Homo sapiens: one gene and its partner. The protein of the gene in region 1 interacts with the protein of each later gene in a pairwise test. Each region holds a gene or a part of one and is shown on either strand. Other genes may lie near its edges.

Region 1 (7,499 bases):
CTTCCCAGAGGCCACTCCACCATAGAAACCTCTAACCTCTGATGCACAGGGGAATGGCTGGAAGACAGGTAGGAAGAGGAAGGGGCTAAGAGCTACTACCACCAGTAAGCCCCCTTTCCGCAGCCCAGTTCCAGACCTCTCTCCTGGGAGTGGCTGTGCTCAGGGCTGTTTCCAGGGACCAAGTGGCCTGAGGCTCGGGGATCACCATGGCACAGGTAAAGAAAGGGCAGGAGAATGATTAACCTAGACACTGGGGTTAAGAGCAGAGAGAAAGGCCTGAAGCCAGACACTTCCAGTGCCCCCCAACCCCCCAAGGCAGGACAAACTTGGCCTCCCAGACCCACCACTGGGTGGAAAGTGGATGCTGAGGAACCCCCTCCACCGCCCAACGCTGGGGCCTGGACACAGCTGGCAGGGTCACGGCCTCCAGCTGCAGTGTATCTGCTCCACTCTGGGGCCATTGCCCTCAAGCTCTGAGGTGCCAGAGCCATAGGGCGGGGTCCTGAGAAGGGGCAGTTCCAACCAGGCCAGGCCTGGTCAGCAGCTGTTTCTCTTCCCCACCCCCACGGGCAGGCAGAAGCTGATGGGCTGCGGCTGCTGGAGCTGGGAAGGCCCACCCTAGGGACACCCAGGGGACCTGCCCCTGCCTTCCCTCAAACATAAAGAAAACAGTAAGCAAGTTGCCTACCAGGGTGAGAAGAGATATGCCCAGCTGGAAGACAGGTGTGGGGGACCCCCAGAGCTGGGGACCCCAAAGGAAGGTGACAGCTGAACAACCTGGGGGATGGACTGGCAGGGAGCAACCTAAACCCTAGCGCTACTGCAGCTGTGAGAACAACCCTCACCCTCACCCTGGAGTTACAATAGGCGGGAAACGGGGAGGGGCCACGCAAGGCACTCGGCCCCACCCAGACCCTGGGCTGGAAGCTTACCTCACCAAAGCCAAAGCCAAAGAAAAGGCGGACATGGGTGGGGGCAGGGAGGACTTCAGGGTTCTTGGCTAGGGTGTTTAATTGGGAAGACAAAGGGACTCTCCATCCACCGTGCAGATGGAACACAGGAGAACTTCCCAACTCAGATTTGGGACAGGGAGTGTTCTCAAAGAGCAGCACAGTGAGGGCACCAGCCCACAGAGCGAGGTGCCACAGCCAGCAGCAAGGATGGGGGGCGGCCCACAATTAAGGGAACCACCGTAGGGCAGCCCCTCACCACCGAGAGTCAGGAGCAGAAGAGAAAGCTGAGGCTACACAAACAGGAAGCTCCAAAGCTTGCGTGGGAGGAGGGGATGAGGTGGGGGCCGTTGCCATGGCTTCTGTGTACCAAACAGTGTTGGAGGCTGGGTGGGGGCTCCGGGCAGAAACACCCTGTCAACACAGACGTTGTGGTGAGCAGGCTGTGAGCACGGGAGCAGAAGTGGGATCGTCTCAGCAGTGCTCGGGTGTAGCCAGGTGCAAGAGATTATTCCAGGAGACAGCTATAGTGGGGATGGACAGCGTGTGGGGGAAGATAGGAAATGACCCGTGTTGGGGTGAAGAAGAGGACTCAGGAAGTAGTTGTTCAGGAGAAGAAATCCCCTGGGAAGGGAAAGTGTTCTGAGCTAGAGAACCCACAGCTGAAAATTCTGGAGGGAGAAGGGATGGAATGAAGAAAGGATTAGGGGCCAATCCCGGGGTGGGGGACAGGGGCAGAGGCCTTGGGGTGAGGGAGGGAGTTGCGGTTGGACAAAACCTATTTGTTGGTTCTGGAATGGTAGGGCCCTACTGGGCCCGCCCTGCCTTGGCCTCCTCTGCAGTTGTAGGTCTGCCCCTTGTAGTGGGGAGGAGAAACTGGGAGGGGGCTAGAGATAGAGAGCCATTGCTGTCTGGTGCTTTGAAGTCAATGAGAACACTGGGGGAGCCCCGTCCCAGCCGCAGGTCTTCTACATCGAATCCCACACTCCATCCCCACTCTCACCCCGTTTCTCTCTGCCCCACAGATACCAACTGCTCACAGATCTCCCAGGACACCGGCTTCAGGTAGCCCCAGGAGGCACAGGGCGCGGGGGGAGGCGGCAGTCCACCTCCGGTCCTGCAGGTCCGGCCTCCCAGCCGCCGCCCCCCACCCCCACGACCACACCCTGGGCCGTTACAACAGATGAGTCACCCACCGCCCTCCCGCCGCTGGGGTGACGCAGTGGTCTGGGCAGCCCGCCCGTCCGCCCGCGGCCACCACCGGCTTTCCCAGCAGCAGGGGGCACCCGGTGGGGGCAGCGGCGCTCGGGCAGGGTAAAAGCAGCCACCACCACCCCCACAACCTCACACAGGGCACCCCGGGGCGCAGTCAGGGCTGCAGCACCCAGACCCCCGAGGTCAGGGGACCGTCATAGAGATGACTGGAGCTTCACAGAAGGTCACCGTGCGACCCATGCAGAGCCCCCTAGCCCCAGCCCGTGACCTCAAGTCCCCAGAATAGCAAGCTAGCAGGAACAGGAATGAAAAGGGCGGCCTCGGGGACTCAGAGGGCACGCAGTGCTCACACGTGCTCCTGGAACCAGGAAGTGAAGGGTCGCGCGGGAAAGCCCAGGAGCACGAGCTGGCCCAGGGCCGGCGCCACGACCCGGGGTCACTCGGGGCCAGCCAGCTAAAGTCCGACGCCCTTTTTTCCCCTCGCCCCAGTGAGGACTCAGCGATGGAGCCCGCGGGTGGGGCTCAGTCCCTGAGTCCCTGCTCCAGACGGACGCCCTGTCTATGCATGGGCTAACCTCGCCTGACCTCATCGTCCAACAATGTCGGGTCAGGGCTTGGGGACAGGACCTGACAGCACGGGGCGGGGTAAAGTAGTCACCGGACCCTTGCCTGGTACCAGCCCTTGATCCCCGAGCTCGCTGGAGCAAGTTCAAAGCGCTGGCTTCTTGCTTTCTACACAGCACGCACATGTCCCCGACCCCCGTACCCCCGACCTGCTCACCGTTCAAGCGGGCTGGAGAGCGGCGCACTGACTCAAGGCAAGGGCTGCAGCTGCAAGTGGTGCGCCCTGCCCAGCCGGGGATTTTCAGGAGGGTCCCGCCTCAGACGGGGCGGACCCGGGGCGGGGCAAGGGCCAAGAAGGTTTAAAGGCGCCGCAGCGCAGAAGGAGGGAGGACTGCTTGAGACAGAGGGACAGTAGACCAGAGCAAGGGTTAAAGGTTCGGGGAGTCTGAATCTACAAAGGCGGCTGCAGTGGTCTCCACCCGTGAGTACCTCAGCCTCCACCGAGAGCCCGTAGACTTGTGCCCCAGTAGGAAACTTTCTGCCTAGAAAGTTAGCTAAACACTGTGGGCGTGTTTATGTAGGAAGAAGCCTCCTAGTTTAGAGGCTGGCAAGGTAAAAGGAGGCACAGGAAGGCCTTCCCCCGACCCCAACTGACTAGTGTGTGACAGGACTGGGACTTGCAGGCCGGGACAGCACCCCCACGTGATCTTGCTCACCTCTTACTTCAAGCCTGGGCAGGGACTAACAGTGAGGTCACTCTGCCCAGGGCCCTAGGGGTGTTTTCGGTGTTGGGACCCAGGGCTCAGACCTGTCTTCTCCCTGCCTTTCATCTCCTTTTCTATGACCTGGTATCTCTTCCTAAATCCTGGAGGGATCAGAGGGGGAGACCTCAGCGCGAGGAGGCTGGCTGGGGTTCTTTTGTCTCTGAGGGTGGAGGACAGCACAGTTCAGGGGTGGAGAAAGAGCCCCCCATCCTTTCAGGCTTCAGTTGAATAGAGTCCCCCGGGGTGGAGTTCTGCACACATGATAGAGTCCTCCCTTGAACCTGAGATTCCAGGATGTCAATATCCAGTCCTGTCCAACCTTTCTATTATTCTCTGTTCCCTCCCCGAGTCCTACACAGCCCTATATTCCAGTCCCACTGATTGTCAAGCATTCTCACTCTTCTGTGCCTTTACAAAGGCTATTCCTCTGCCTAGGACAGTTTCCCTTCCTTGACTGGCTCCCCACCTGCTCTACCCTTTACCTGCTGTGTGACTGTTGTGCATTCTATGCTTGAGTTCCCTGGTCTATAGAACAGAGCTAATAGTACTACCTAATTCATAGAATTGTAGAGAACTAAACAGTCCACCTATAGGGCTTAGAGCAGTGCCTGGCACATAGTGAATACTATTATTACCACCATCTATCTGTGAGGGTCCTGAGGACTCCCCCCCAATATGTGGCATTTGTCCCAGCACACGATATTAGCGTTCACTAAAGGTGGCCTTGAATGCAACATCTTCCTTTGTGCTACAATAACCAACACATAGCTTTATCACGGAACTTATCATACGGTAACTATTTCTTTGTCCGCCTCACTGACTAGAAAGAACTCCTCAAGGGCAAAGGCGTGCTTCCAGAGCTTTGTATTTTCTCAGTATCTACTTCAGTGGCTGGCCTTTAGTAGCTGGCCTCCGTAAGCACTCAATAAATGTTCTTGAATGAATGCTGAATGCACCTCCATTTATTCAAGAAGATTCTCCTCTTCTTTAAGGGTCCAGGGATTTTCCTGGCACTCTCTCAAAGACAGATAACACACAGAAACATCTTTCAAACTTTGTTTATTCACCTGTAAAAAACTTCACACACACACACACACACACAGAGAGAGAGAGAGAGAGAGAGAGAGAGAGAGAGGCAGACCTAAGATCCCTGTTCCAATCCCCAGACTCACCTAGGGGGTCAGCACATACATTCCATACCAAGGTGACCCAAACCCACTATCAGGGTCTGTGCCTGGGCACCAAAGGGGCAGGCAGGGGCAGTGCCCTCGTTTGAAACTAGGTCTGTCTGGTTGGGGGCCTCCTTTGCAGGTCCATATGCCTTTTCACAGCCTCACATCAGGGATGTTCACAGCAGAGTGGCCTGTTCGGGGTGGGGGACTGGCTGTCGATAGGCTGGTAGCCGAGCCCTAGTAGCATCTCGGCGGCGGCGGAAGGCCAGGAATTCCTCCCGAAGGGCAGCACAGCGGGCCTCAGGGCCAGTAACATGGGCAGTGTTCAGGAGGCAGCCCTCCTCTGGAGTCTTCACACCTGCAAGAGGCGGGCAGGACAATGAGAAGAAGCCCTGAGGTTCACTGAGTGAAGAGCTCAGATGTGAAGCTCGCTAGGCCCTTCCAGTACAGATGGCCCAAGGGGGCAAGGCACAGTCTAGAGCAGAGGAGCCTGGGAGGCAGGGCCTGACTGGGAATAGATGGGTCCTAAGGTGGCGGGGGGATGTGGGACAGTATGGCCGAGATGCCTGCCTTTCCGGGGGGCTCACACACCTAGCTCTGGCTCAGCTTCAGGTCTGAGCCGGGAGCTGGCCAAGCCCAGGTGCAAAGTCTCCAGCAATTCCATGTCCCCAGGGAATTCTGAGTCCCACTCATAGTTCTCGTCCACAGATGTGTTCCTCCTGTAAAAAAAAAAAAAAAGACAAACATATGGTGTGGGTGGAGGAATAGAGGCTGTTCAGAAAAGTCTGAATTCAGCGACCGCAAACTCACGTTAGGTCATGGGTTTCCCCTGAAAAATCCCTGGACCTCAGCAAAAGCTTCTAAAAGGGACAAGTTTTCCCGTTCCCAGGGTGGGAGTGGAGCAGAGAAGGTGCAGGGTATTGGGAGAGGGGTGAGAGGTCTGGGGTGGGACTGAGGCGGAGGCAGGGATGGGCAGGGACTGCTCTCACCTCTTGCTGACTGTCACCACATGCTCCCTTCGGGGCCATCTCTCAGGGCCACTGGCCCAGCTGCTGGTGTCTCCTGGAGCAGGGCTGAGGTAGCTGCCTCCTGCAGAGGGGGCTGTGGAGGGGGGCCGCAGGAACGAAGCGCTGCCTCGCCCACTGCTCTGGCTGGTGAGGCTGCCTCGAGGGGCAGCAGGGAGAAGGCCTGGCAGCAGCCGCTCCCTCAGTGTCCAGTCAGCCAGGGCTGTGTAAGGGGGCTCTGCAGTGGCCCCAGCCCCTACCACAGCCCCAGGAAGTGATTCCCTGGGGGATACAGGAGGGGTTTCTGGAGAACGAAGGAAAGATGAGGTGGGACAGCGCCGGGTATCCATGTAATCTGGGGGTGCAGCAGGGCTGGGCTCCTCAAGCGGGGGCCAGTCCCCATCCACATTCATCTCTCGGAAGAAGGGCAGGCTCAGGTACTGGAGCAGGGGTCCAGGACCTGGCAAGGGACTGGGTGGGGCTGCTGGAGGGGGTGCCACAGGGCTGATGTCTTCAATGCAGAGGGGCTGGGGTGCCCCACTGGGGCTGCTGCTGCTACAGTCAAAGGACCGGGCCAGACGCTGGGCTGGAGTCCGAGGTTCTGCCTGCTCCCGGCCTGACCTTTCCTGGGGGGCCGCCACAGTGGGCCCCATCACAAAGCGCCCGTCTGGGCCCCGGCAAATGGGCTCCAGAGGTAAGGGTCCCCGGCTAGATGGAGGATCCGGGTGGGGGCTGGGAGTTCCGGCAGGATCCCCCCAGAGCAGACTCTGGCGCAGGCTGGGGACTGGGGATCCCTGGAGCTTCAGCTTCGCCACGCTGTCAGGACTGCCTGAGCCCAGAGCAGAGCTGGGGAAGGACAGGAGATCAGGGTCTGTGGTAGGGGCAGGTCCCCCTCCCAGGAGCCAGCGTCAGGCCTTGAGAGGTTTGGTGAACAACAGAGCAGAGCTAGGAAGAACAAGCGAGGAAAGGACCAACAAGGTGGAGGGGTGGAGGGAAGGCACAGGCCATACTGGAACGGCCTCAGGCTGGGGCCACTGCACACCCCTTCTTACCCTCTCCCACTTTTGTTCCTCCCCAACACCCAACATCCCCCTGGTAAAGATGCAAAAAAGGAAGCAGAAGATACTGGCACGTACAATGGAAAGGCAGAAGAAAGCCAAGGAGGTGGAGGCACTTACGGTGCAGCTGACTTCCCGGTCGGAGAGAAGATAAGAGGTGGATCTGGAAGGGCATGAGAATAGTAGGTGACACAGGCAAAAATCAAGGCCCTCTAGGCGGAGACTCTCTCACCCAACACCAGGCGCCCAACCCCATCCGGCTGGGAAAAGCGTAGGCAGGACCAGATGCAGGACTAAGAGAATGCACCTGGATCACACAGGAGCGAGGGCTTTTCCCCCAGGTAGGAGGGGCTTAAGGAGGCTAGGCCCAAGTGCGCAGTAGCAGGGCTGAGGGTGGAGGGACTTACCTTGGCGGAGGCGCTTGCGGCGGCGGCGGGCAGCCCTGCGCCGGTTCAGGAGGCAGCCGGCCAGGATGCTCACAAGGACGGCCACTCCCAGAAAGCAGACTCCGCCCACCACGCCGGCCAGCACGGGCTGAGGCAGGAGGCCCGGCAGCTGCGTGCGCGAAGGGTAGACCTCCAGACCTAGGCAGGGGTCCACGAGGGAGGGTCAGTGGACTCGGAGCAGCCCTGGGGCTCCTCCCTCACGCCAGGTGCTCACCGGAAGTGGAGACGTTGGCCGTGTTGCTGGGGTCGCTGACGAAGCTGCCCGCGAAGGCCACGAGGCGGAACTCGTAGAGAACATCCTGCGATGGGGATGGGGTACCAGGAGG
Region 2 (6,970 bases), on another chromosome or scaffold:
CGTCCTATCTACCATAAGTTTTGGGTCCCTTAATCGTTTTTTCGTCCTTCCCAATTGATTGAAAGATATTCAACAAGTTAGTGGCAGCATCAGACTAAAAGCTAGGACTCTTGATTGCTGAGTTACAATAATAGTTCAACCAGAATTAAAGTCTGCACTTTCCATATTTCCATCCTGTCACAGCCTACAGTGCCTTCTCTTCTAATTCTTAAGTAATCAAAAGAACTTAGCATTTCCTTTGTTTGGTTATTTAAATACAACTTAGCAGGACACAGAACTTATTTCTGCTTTGTTACTATTCTGTACTAAAAGCAAAAGAGAAAGACTAAGGAAAATTGTAAGAAAACCTAATAATTGGTAACATTACTATGTTGTAAATATAATTTATATCACTGAATTTCTTAGAGGAAAAACAGTGTAAGGAGGGGATGGAGGAGGGGAATGATGATAGTAGAAGCAGTTCAGGCAATGCTACCAAAAAACTTAAATGGGATTTTCCATTTAGAATACCTTTTTAAAGTTTTTGATCATTTAAAATAGATTTATTAACACAATTATTTTGTTTTGTTCCATTATAATTACATCCCCCAAGAAATACAAATTAACACACTTATCCATTTCCAAAAAGCTCAAGATTGAGAAAAATTCTCTTAAATGAACTAGTTGTCATTTTCAGTACAGTCCCCAGCATATAAATTTATAAGGAATAGCAAATAAAGATGAAAAGAAAGTACATCATTAAATGCTTTGGTTTACGCTAAAGCTACCTTTAATTAAAACCGCCAATCACAATCCTAGGGGACTAGCACTTAGATTAAGAACAGGGGTAGCCCATTGCTAATCTAATTCCCTGGGCTTCCCCCTCGCCACTGCCCACCATCTAGGCCTAATAATACTCATTTTCCTTCTAAGTACATGAGACTTTTTTTTGTCCTAGTAATTTCCTTTGTCAGCTTCCTGTAGTTTGGGGCTAGGTTCTGCTTTCACCTACCCTATTAACATCAACATAACTGGTGGCAGATGAAAAGTAACAATCTCATACAGCCTTTTTAGAAGAGCATTCAGCTGGAAGCTCTGAGCACCATGTTCTGCTCTCATCAATGTCCATTGTGATCAGCTGTGTAGTCTTTGGTAACTCTTTGAAGCTACAGTTCACTTCAAAGGATTATTATTAGGAACAAGCAAGACAATGTGTAAGTGGCAAGGATTATGGGAGACAGTCAGTGTAGTATGAAGGCTTTGGAGACCAAAGACTCTGCCATACAATAGCTATATTACTTTGGGCAACCCTGTTGCTTTCTCCTCATTTACATAATGGGAATAACTTGTCTACCATGCCTGTCTCAGACAGATACTTTTGAAGACATTATTGAAGAAATTATAAAATGTCTGACACATAACAAGCTGTTAATAAATGATTTACCTAAATGCACTATACAAATTTAAGCCCTATAATTCCTTAGTAAAGATATAAAATTCAAACAATTCAGAAGTGACTGGGGCAAAGAACTCAGGTATACTAACATTCTATTCTCCTTTAAGATTTATTGCTCTTTTTTCCCTCTTGTTTTTAAGGTGAAACCATTTGGTATATTAGATGAAATCGTCACAGTGCACATTTAGAATATTATGAATTTAAGACTAAGAAATCACCAACACAAACCACACATTTGCAGTTTTTTGCAAGTGAATTTTTTTAAGTTTCAACATTAACATTTGTATTTTGCATTAAATTATTTTAAATAGCATTACACTAGCCTATACAAAATTTGTTATTGACCTATTTGATATTTGTGTGCTTATGGAAATGGAAAAGGTTTTTAATCCCAAACCACCATCATGACACAAGAGAAAGAGAGAGAGGAGAGAGAGAAAAAGAGAAAGGGAACACATAGTTGTGTTGAAAGTAAATCCAAGAAATCGCAAGTAGCCTTAACATTACCATCCAGGAAAGTCTGTTCAAGATAATCAATGATCTGAGTGGCCTCACAAATTATGTTTTCCCCGTGGATAAGGACAGGCACTTCTCCAGTTGAGTTCAAACGCATAAACCAAGGCTCATTGTGCTCACTCAAGGGCAGACTTACATCATGTTCCTCGCACTTCAATGCCTTTTCAGCAATTACCAAGCGCACCTGGAAGAGTTCACACTGGTTACTACAACACATGTAAGCTTTCAATTAAATGACTTCCCTGGACACCGCTAAGCAGCCTTTCTGGGCTTCCCTGTGTTACCGACATTTTCAACAGTCGTTTTAACAATTCCTATTCCTGGAATTAACAAGTAAGGAAAGAACAATACTCAACAAATTAAGAGAAGAACACAAAATAAGTAATGAAATGATTCTGACTGTATTCATTAAACAGTCACCCTCCTCATCACTACCACTTTCTCGGTGTCCTAAACCTGATTATGGGTCCTCCCCAGACAAGAACCTGACATGTAGGTACATCAGCTCTTGCTGAAGACAGTGAATGCGAGAGAGCAAAAGAAGAGATCGCAGATTATGAGGGTCCACAAAGGCACCTCCCTCTGCCTCTCTCCGAAGACCAGCAGGCAAGGCCTCCAGACCAAATACTGAAAATGATGCTTTTTTGTCGCATTTCGCGAGAGGCGGAGCCTGGGCCATAGCCACATAGGATCATCTCCGATCGATTCTCCCCGCTCCCCACCCGGGCGCGTCCCCGCCTGGAGGGAGCGCCTGCCCGGGGTCAGGACACTGGAGGCGGATTTCTAGGTGGACCGGCTTCCCTGGGCGGGACTCAGAAGGAGCTGTCCCAGTGCTGAAGCCCGATCCGCGCCACCCTCCGCCGCCAAGGCCTGTTGTACCTTTTGAGAGCTGAAGGAATGCGTCCAATGGTACAGAATGAGCTTAACCTCCGCGTCGGCCTTGCCTTCCGCCCTCAAGGGCGGGCTCCCTCTCTGCTCTTCCTGCCTCTCAGCCATCTTGGGGTGCGCGAGCACGGGTGCGCCCAGCCTGTCCGCCCTGGACTTCTCCCTCCCACACTGCCCCGCAAGGCGTTTCCGGGTTTTGAGGGGTACCTGCCGGAAGGAGGGCGCGCGGCCCGCTGGGAAATGTAGTTTCGCCGGCGGCAGAGTCTGCGAACACGCGGGGTCTGCGACTGGAAAGCCCCTGGCAAGCCTGGGAGTGCACCTGGGAGGTGCAATTGAACGGTTGTTTTTTGGGTTTGTTTTTTTTTTTAGAAGAAAAAATAAAAAATATGAGACCCTGGTTATGAAGGGCAGTAAGGAAGAATGATGATAGCAAATTACTCTTCGGTTTGGAGGTTGCTCAGGTATAAAAGCAGCAATTTCCCAAGATACTGAGGGTTGCTCTTGGAGCCTGTTCCTTTGTTGGAAAGGAAGTTCCGGTCGACAAGCAAAGCAACAGGAAAAGGATCTATGAGCTTTCATTAGAAGATGCTACTATGACATTAGTGGACTAATTCCACAAATTTGACTAACTGCTGTAGATTAGAGAATAGTCTTGTATAAACAGTAAGTACTTGATTTTGATAATTAAACTGTGCTTTGTAAAAGAAAAAAAAATACCACTATGGAGTCATGCAAAAAAACTGTTTTTGTCATAAACAGCTAATAAACAATGGCGATATAAAATAGCCTAGTTGTTAAACACAAAAATTCTACAACAGTACTGCCTAAGTTCATATCCTGGTTTTTCCATTTTCTAAGTAAGAATAATAATTTTATTGTTTCCCTCATAAGATTTTTGTGAAAAATTAATAATAAAATGTTAAACACTCAGAACACCCTGTCACGTTGTAGGCACTCAGTCTTAGTCACAGGTTCAGTTGTCTTATAAACATTCTGTTATAACCATAGTCAGAATCATAATTTTATATTAGTCTAGTTATTATTGTATGTCTTTAAAAATTTGGCATCATATAGTAAGTTGATTTTAAAAATCTCTTTCAGTAATATGTATAAATATGACCATAGAATAAATGCCTGTATAATTTATCTGGCAAATATTTATTGAGCACCTACACTGTTCCAGACATTGTGCTGGCTCCTGGTAATATAAAGATGTGTGAAATCTAATATCTAACACTCAAGATATAATCTGGCAGTAGAGACGACCAAGGAAATAGACAATCACAATAAAGATGAGAACTGTCTTAGGGTGAACACAGAGTACTATGAGAAAGGAGGGGCAGGCAGCCAACCCAGGTCAGAGAAGGGCCCCTGGAAAAGACAAAATCTCATGAGGTTCTTCCTTGCCTTTACAGTACTTCATTTGTTACTCTCTGTAATTCTTTCATAATTTTTTAAGATTTCATAATGTCTTTTATATCCTTCAGTTAATTCAAGTGCTATAGAAAAGGTGAATTCCTTGCCAAAATTGTTTTTATCAGTTCACACTTAAGAGTAAGAGCGGAAAGAGGAAAACTTTGAAATCGGACAGAGTGGGGTTTAAATTCTAGCTCTACCCTAACTTGAGCTTTCTTGAGCTTTGACTTCATTGTGTGTAAAAAATGGATACATAAAAATTATATGCCTACCCAGATGGCTGTGGGAATTCAAGAAAGGATATATATAAAGCACCTAGGGTATTGCCTGGAATGTAGCCATTGATAAAAACATATGTGTAAAAGCCCCTTCACTGACATTAGGAGGGCATTATATTACATTTCATCCTCTCTCTGTAGGTCTCAAAATTTTTACAACTACCCATATAATCCTCCTCTCCCATTCCTCTTCAGAACTTCATTTTTTAATTATCCACCTTCAGATTCCTAGTTTTCTATTCCATTACCTTCAATAGCAAACACCACGCTTACTTTTGCACCAACCTTAATACTAAATCATCCTAAATATTTGAATAAATTCCAGTACTCGTGATAAGCCATGTGTCACCTGCAGCTGAAAAAGTCCTGACAATAAAGCCCTGGTCCCTCAAACACAACACTTTTCTCCATCACATCCTGCCCACAGCAAAGCCATAGAAGAAACACTGAATGACTTGATTACTTGGTGTTTAGTACAAAGCATTCATAGATCTCATTGGGAGTGTAAACATGCACAGAACTTCTGAAGGCAAATGTATCAATATGCTTCAAGAATCGTGAAAATGGGCATAACTTCTAACCTAGAAATTCCTCTATTTGCAATTTAAGGAAATAATTCTGACAAATTCTGACAGTTGATCCTACCTATTTTTCCCTTCTTCCGTGGTAATAGAAATTTTAGCTGAGCACATGACTGCTGAGAATAAAGACTGTATTTCCTAGGCTCTATTGCAGCAAAACATGGTCTCCTAACTATCTTCTAACAAGGGGAAAGTCATGGATGTGCCACAGGGCAAGTGCTGGGAATCTTTCTTAAAGAGACAATTAGCCCTGTGCCTCTTCTTCATCCCATCCTCCATCCTGCTTCAGAGAGGATGGATTCTGACCTGGACCATGAAGAATGGGGCCACGCCTTAGGAACAGCTGGGCCATGAACTTGGGGAAAATTGAGCTTCTAAAGACACTGAGGAGCAGAACCCACACCAACTTGGGTCTGCAAACCTCCAAACTTTTACTTGAAAAGGAAAAAAAGGATCTTGTGTAAGGCACTGTTATTTGGTGCTTTCTGGATGCTATTGTCTTAACCTATCCTCATCAATACATCAATCTTGTAAAATATAGGTGGCTTTTATTTCTTTATGATTCTGTATACTCTAATTGTTTTATAATGAATGTGTGTTGCTTTTACCTGTTAAAGGTGTGAACACTAAAAGAATATCATTAAATAGATGACATAAGGAAAAATGTGTTTGTTTTATCACAATAGAACTGCTACATCTACTTCCAATGATCTATAATCACTTTTTTCCCATCCCAATAAAAGCCACTGTTGGTAATATAAAAACCTTATTATCCTTTCACATGTTTATTCAGAGCTCCTACTACACTGTGTATTCTGTGTCTATGGTTTTTGTAGATCATAGACATGATCATTGTGGGCTCCTTGAGGACAGGAGCCAGGTCCAGGTAAATTTGTTTTCAATATACATTTTTTGAGCCTTAAGTGCTAGATAGAGAAGATACAGAGTTCAAAGTCAGTCACAGTCACTGGCCTTAGGGAAATCAAGTGTGAAGGCAGAGAAATGAGATCCCAACACAGTGTGGTACTTGCTGTGACATCTAGAAAGTTATAGTAGGAATATAGAGAAAGGCACCTAACACAGATAGGCTTCCCAGAAGAGGTGATAATCTTTACCATAACTAGTACCATACTAACACAATTACCATTATATCCAGGGTGGTGCCCCCACTGGCTCATGATAGCTGATTGTTAAATTTTCAGGAATTTGCAAAGTGGATGTTCAACTCAGCTATTAATCAAAATTAAATCAAACTGAGTTGCATTTAAATGAATTATTTCCGCCGGGCACGGTGGCTCATGCCTGTAATCCCAGCACTTCAGGAGGCTGAGGTGGGCGGATCACGAGGTCAGGAGATCAAGACCATCCTGGCTAACACGGTGAAACCCTGTCTCTACTAAAAAATTAGCCAGGCGTGGTGGCGAGTGCCTGTAGTCCCAGCTACTCGGGAGGCTGAGGCAGGAGAGTGGTGTGAACCCGGGAGGCGCAGCTTACAGTAAGCCAAGATCACGCCACTGCACTCCAGCCTGGGCGACAGACTCCATCTCAAAAATAAATAAATAGATAAATAATTTTAAAAATAAAACTAGCAAATACTTAAAACTCATCACTTCCTAATTATGTGTATTATTATCTATACTCCTGAGTTTATTTGTGTCTATCATATCCATACAAGGCAAACAGTATATAAGGATGTGCTACTTGCATATCTCTTCCTCTCTGTTCAGTGATGTCATGTTAGTGACTTGAAATTGGCCATGGTAGAACTATTTACAGAAATCGGTAAATGCTATCATGTTTAACTTTTTCCCAGAAAGTTGGTTGTTAAATATTTACTACTATACCATTGAATGTATCTA

What was found. Proteins that work in one complex are often made in the same cells at the same time.
Region 2: the proteins of TAGLN2 (region 1) and GDAP1 interact in binary tests that used the Homo sapiens proteins (3 or more experiments, as listed by UniProt).

The regions. Positions count from the first base shown.
Region 1 is NC_000001.11:159,922,504-159,930,002, forward strand, and holds the start of TAGLN2 (transgelin-2), read right to left. Parts: upstream 3,005-7,499; 5' UTR 2,947-3,004; exon of another isoform or gene 1,976-2,946; intron 1,449-1,975; exon of another isoform or gene 1,375-1,448; intron 1,232-1,374; exon of another isoform or gene 968-1,231; coding exon of another isoform or gene 933-967; intron 1-932. Other genes in the region: IGSF9 (protein turtle homolog A isoform a precursor), read right to left, coding at 4,842-5,023, 5,257-5,384, 5,655-6,515, 6,848-6,890, 7,135-7,311, 7,388-7,472.
Region 2 is NC_000008.11:74,346,439-74,353,408, reverse strand, and holds the start of GDAP1 (ganglioside-induced differentiation-associated protein 1), read right to left. Parts: upstream 3,007-6,970; 5' UTR 2,948-3,006; coding exon 2,831-2,947; intron 2,138-2,830; exon of another isoform or gene 2,136-2,137; coding exon 1,943-2,135; intron 1-1,942. UniProt on the Homo sapiens protein: Regulates the mitochondrial network by promoting mitochondrial fission.